2 separate regions of the Homo sapiens genome follow, and region 1 is linked to region 2. Evidence: fine-mapped expression QTL. Tissue or cell type: testis. Region 2 holds a variant in brackets; the other region holds the start of a gene. All regions are shown on one strand. Distances are from middle to middle. Region 1 holds the start of NELL1-AS1 (NELL1 antisense RNA 1). Region 2 overlaps NELL1 (neural EGFL like 1).

Region 1 (2,930 bases), 47 kb before region 2:
TACCCATTAGTTATTTTTCCTGATCCTCTCCCTCCTTCCCCTTTCCATCCTTTGAAAGGCTCCAGTGTGTTGTTCCCCTCTACATGTCCTGTTGCTTTAGTTTTATTTCTTTTATTATTTAGATGGACCTAAAATACCCTCAAATATTCCATTTGTACGACTAATTATGATCATAAACTTCATGTTGAGCTAGGCACTGTTCAAATTGCATATATTTAGCCCTCACAAAACTCTGTGAGGAAGATACTATTACCTACCTGCATTTACACAAGAGGAAACAGAGGCAGAGAGCGATTAAAGAATTTGCCCAAGGTCAAGTAGCTATTAATGAAAGAGCCAGGATTAAACCCAAGCAATCTGCTAATTTTTAACCTTTATGCAGTACTGCCTCAAAGGAAAAATCTGTTTATGAACACTGAGAAATTATTTTGTAATTTCAAGTCTCTACATACATGTAGTTTAAAGAACTAAACAGTTCTAGAAAGTTTTATAGGGAAGATTAATCCCTTGGAAACAGTTCCCTATTTCCTATCCCTAGAGGCAACCACTTTCAATGCTTTTAACAGATTCAATTGGTGTTTTCGTTCAGATCTTTAAATAGCACATTTCTTTGCTACTTTGTGATATTTTTAAGTTTTCATTTTTTTACACACCTCTCCACATATCTTCTCGTTAGGTTAGTATCGTTTATGTTATTACGATTGTGCGTGTGCTATTGATAATCTAATCATGGAATATACTTGATTTTCTTTCTTGCATAGCTCTTCGTTCCTCTTGTCATTAAGAATCATCTAATTTATTAATCTTATTATTTAGTTTACTATGGTATTATCATAATTAATCCTCAAACTCCCTCTAGTTGTATAAATACCCTCTAAGACATTAACTCTTTTATGTTCTGGAATAAATCTCCCCCACAGTTTGGTTGATTTCCAGGTTCACTGTGTAGTGAATGTCCTGGGAATATATCTGTACCATGACTCTGGGGTCCTTTTTGCCTCTCTGTCGGGTGAGAGCCCCGTTCCTATGTACTGTGCTTACTTTTCTTAGTTGACCGCTCTGGCTTGGTTCTCCATTAATTACCTGAGAAAGACTACATGGGAGATGAGGTTTTGAGAAATTTCTGCTCTGATAACTGTCTTATGAAGTGAGTTAATATTTACAAATTGCTAAGAAAACTATCTGGCACATGGCAAACAAAACATATACATTTTAAAAATAATTATACCTTCACTCTTGACTGGCAATTTGAAAAGGTATTGTATTTCTGTTTGTAAATCATTGTTCCTTCCTCAGGATTCTGAAAGCATTGTTCCATTGTATCCTAGGTTCCTGTATGGAATTTGAGAAGCCCAATGCTATTCTGACTTTTTATCTTTGGTTTTGAAATCCATTGTTTTAAATTTCATGATGATATTGGTATACATTTTCTTCATCCTGTTGGTCACTCAGTGGACTTTTTCAATCTAGATATTCATAACATTTAAGTCTGTAAATGTTCTGACATGATATCTTTGGTGACTTCTCCTGTACTCTTACTCCTTTTTCCTTGGTCTTCTCTTTCTTTTTCTAGCTTTCCTGTTATTTTGATGCTGGACTTTCTGATTTTTCAATTTTTATACTTGTCTTCTTATTTTACATATATTTGTCATTTTCTTCTAATATCTGGAGACTTCGTTCACTTTATCTTGTAACCCTTTTCATTTCTGTTGTCCTCTTTTATGTTTCAAGACTGCTTTTTCTCTTCCTGTGTTTTCTCATAGCATACTCTGTTTCATGAACATGGTGTCCTTTCACTCTTAGGACATTAATCATGGTGAGTAATCAAGGGATAGTGATAATGAAGTGTTCTGTTAATGGAGTTCTCACATCCTTCTTCTTGGGTTTGTCTACAAATTTGCTGTGGCTTTTGTCTTTTATGTTAGAAGCCTCCCTCAAATGTTTAACCCGGCTTTCCACTCATACTTAAGAGCTCTGCAATAAAACACTAATCGAAAGCTCTGTGCAACTGGAGATGTGATTGTTAATGATTAAATTCAATGTGGGGTAACGGCGAGCCATTCATTCTCTCAGGAAACACCTGATTGTCAATTTAAGTATTTTTAGTTTGTTTGTTTCCTTAGAAAATATTCTTCAAAATTCCTGCCCAGGCAATAAAAGCCATCTTTCAGCATTCTGATTGCCATATACACTTTCACTGATTTCCCGGTATTCAATATGGAATCTGCATTCAGTTGTGTGTGGTGTTCCATAGTGCAGAAAATAAATCTCCCATCTTTTTCTAGGCTGGTGGAGAGGCAGTCATCTAACTGGGCAGAATGGGAAGAGGAACCAGGTGTATACCTAGTTTTTAAGGAGACTTTCATCCTATATTTAGCTGCCATTGTCAGAAGTATCTGGTGGTGTTAATTCCTGAGCCTCTTAAATCCCATGGTGCAAAACAAATTGTTTCTTGGCTTTTCTCACTGAGTGTTTGAATTCAGCTTTTTCAGATCTGAGAAAGCAGTCATCACTCCTTCATCTGCTTCTAAGTTTTCAAAATTTTGTTGAGTTACAATTCTCACAGCCTTTATAGGTATATAATCCTTAAAAAATGGAAAAAAAGCTCTTAAATATATAACTTTAATGAAATTTCAAGAAGGAGCAGATGAAATTATGTGCATTTAGCCAACCATGTTTATTTGGAAACTTGTTTATAGAGAATTTTTTTGTTTTGCCTAATTACCAGCTTCTCTGTTAGATGTCTGAAAGTCTACAATGGGGTGTGTGTGTGTGTGTGTGTGTGTGTTTGTGTGTCTGTCTGTCTCATCCTTCCCTCCTTAGGAATAGGGGTGGGAGGGGGAATGTAGCACCTAGAGACATATAAAAGCACAGGAGAAGAAAAGCAGCATGATATAGGGAAAAAGAGCACAGGCTTAGGAGGAAGAGAC
Region 2 (2,930 bases):
ATAGTAAAGTGCTTAATTTCCTCCTTGAACCACTCACATACAGTATGTCAAACATGTTCCTTTTGATCATCCCATGGGGTTGCTATTACATTATAGGAATTTTATCAAAAGGAAAAGAGTTTAGGAGCAAGAAGGCTCTAAAATGCCTTGAAAAAAAAGCAAAGTTCCTGGGTGGTGTTAACTTTCAGCTAAACCCAAGTAGTTATCATTTTTGGGAAACACTTATTTGAGCCAGACATCATTTTAGACATTTAGCATATGCTTTCATTTAAGTTTTACATTTATTTTGTATAGTAAGGGTATTGTCCCTATTTTATTAAAGAATCAGCTGGACAGAGAAAGTTAATGTTATTAAGGTCACATAACAAGCAGTTTGATTCAGGTCAAACTCCAAAGCTGGTTTTATTACTCTATGTATGCCTCTTAAAGCCTATTAAAAAAACCCACTCTAAATATATATATGTATATATATATATATATATGTATATATATATATATATATGTATATATATATAATATATATATATATTTCCTGAATATGAATAAACTTTCTATCATTTCTTAGAATGATTTTTAAAATGCTTGACTTTCCTGCTTTTTATTATTCAAACTCTACTTCCACAATAAGAAATGATGTGAAAACAAATATTCCTTAAAATGAGTTTACCTTACCCCTTCCAAATTGAATGAGTGGATGGGAACTTTTAGAAATTGTAAGTTATTTTTAATCTTTCACTTTACAAATACTAACTTATTCTTCATTCCAGTCGGTATTCTAATGTTGCTTATTGTATTAGTCCATTTTCATGCTACTGATAAAGACATACCTGAGACTGGGAAGGAAAAGAGGCTTAATGGAGTTACAGTTCCACATGGCTGGGGAGGCCTCACAATCACGGCAGAAGGCAAGGAGGAGTAAGTCACGTCTTATATGGATGGCGTCAGGCAAAGAGAGAGCTTGTACAGGGAAAGTCCCAGTTTTGAAACCATCAGATCTTGTGAGACTCATTCACTATCATGAGAACAGTGCAGGAAAGACGCACCCCATTAATTCAGTCACCTCCCCCTGGGTTCCTCCCATGATGTGGGAATTGTGGGAGTTACAATTCAAGGTGAGATTTTGGTGGGGACACAGCTAAACCATAAGACTTATGATCTTAATGATGTAGTTTATTTTAGATAGGATAGGCATGGCAGATACAACTTCTTAGTCTTCACATAAAGGCATTTCTACTTAATAGAATATGTAGGGAGTTCTGATAAGTACATTAGATGAATTATTTTTTAACCTCAAAAGAACTATATGAGAAAACAGCTATTTAATTTAAAATAATAGATAAGAAGAATGAGGTTCAAAATAACTATTTACTTGTTAAGCCTATGTAGAACTAGTATGTGGCAGAACTCAGATTTGAA[A/G]CCAGATCTACCTGGCCCTGAAACATGTGTGCTTTCTTTTACATCAATCCTAATAAATAATACTAACATTGACTATCACTGTGATTAATATCCAGACATGCTGATAATTACGGTATTACCTTGACATTTAGTGCTATGCAAGGAGTAATATAAATTTCACTCAGCAAATATTCACTGAGTGGCTGCTATGTGTCAAGCATCATGGTTGGCAATGTAAAGCAAAAACAAACATGGTTTCGGTCCTCCTAATATTGGTAATCTAGTCAGAAGATGTATCATTTCACATAATAGGACAATTGTGGTACATACTGTGAAGTAATATTGAGTGTATGATTATAAACTTGACCTAGCTCCTGGGTCAAGGAAGGCCATCATGAGGAAATCACAGGTTGAACTAAGAAGGTATCAAAATTTGCTGACATTCCTTTTGATCATCTGTGAGGTTGATGTTGCATTATAGAAATCTAACACAGGATGCGATTTGGAAAGATGGTGTCCAAGCAGAAAATGTTGTTATAGGCTATGTATAGAATGGAATCAGCTTGTTGATGCTATGCAGGTTCAGAGATGGGAGGAACTTTCCATGTTGGAGTGGAAGGGGAGAAGTCTCAGAAGGTAATGTGGGCTAGATCCTGCAGAGACCTGAGTGCATGTTAGATATATTCATCTGTATCTGATGGGTGCTGAGAATTCATTGAAAGGTTTTAATTTGAATATAATCTGTCATTCAAGTTGACTGAGCTTTCTTTTCAAGCTTCGGTATATGGGCAGCAGACACCAAGCAAGTAACCCATGTACTGGCTTTATGAGCTGAAAATTAATCTGTGCGTTTCAGTAACAAAATCTGTAGCTTTACTGGCTTCTCATAGTGTTTAATGACTCTGAAGCAGCTTATTGATGCTGTCAGGAAACTGATACATTTGTAAAAAGAAATGCATTACCCATGCTATAAAATTAAATGTTGCATTGCAAAGCAATATACTAAATATCTCTTTAGTCAATTTTTGTAAACTAAATGTTATAAAATTATATTAGAACAGAAAGACAGCATAAATCTGTGTGGAATATATGTCTTTAAGGCGATTATTTTGTTACTCTGTACTGATAGGTAGGTTTAATTACCTTTTTACTAAAGTGTGTATTTCACATGCCTGGGAAAATAAGTGCATTATTTTGCCCAATTTGTCCTTCTTGTTTACATACGTATATTTGGGGCTTTGAAGGCATATGTATTTTGGGAACTGCTTTTTTATATTTGCATAAAATCAAATACATAATTTTTATCTCTTTTTACACAAATATTAACAACCTGCCACTGTGTAGCCGGGATCCTGTTTAAGAACCTCTAAAATAAAGTGTGACTATTAATGCCTCAATTAACTTTTAATGCAAGAATTGGGACTGTCTCTAGAGCATGTTGAACCTATCCTTCATAATGGATAATGCTGAACATTTTCATAAAAAGAGGTCAAATAATTTCTTCTAATGCCCATGAAAATATCAGCTAGCATTTA

Evidence for each region. PIP is the estimated chance that this variant, and not a neighbour inherited with it, causes the effect. A credible set is the group of variants that fine-mapping cannot tell apart.
Region 1: it holds the start of NELL1-AS1, and the variant in region 2 is the best candidate, but not a certain one, in a credible set for the expression of NELL1-AS1 in testis (GTEx, PIP 0.70).

What each region holds. Positions count from the first base shown.
Region 1 is chr11:21,261,310-21,264,239 of GRCh38, forward strand. It overlaps NELL1-AS1 (NELL1 antisense RNA 1), which reads right to left and starts at 1,258. Exons shown (of 2, transcript NR_199070.1): 1 at 1,229-1,258. The region is part of intron 14 of NELL1 (neural EGFL like 1); the gene reads left to right.
Region 2 is chr11:21,308,798-21,311,727 of GRCh38, forward strand. All of the region lies in intron 14 of NELL1 (neural EGFL like 1), which reads left to right. Among named protein-coding and RNA genes, the nearest start is that of NELL1-AS1, 48 kb to the left of the region's middle. The variant A/G (reference allele first, on the strand shown) is at 1,417.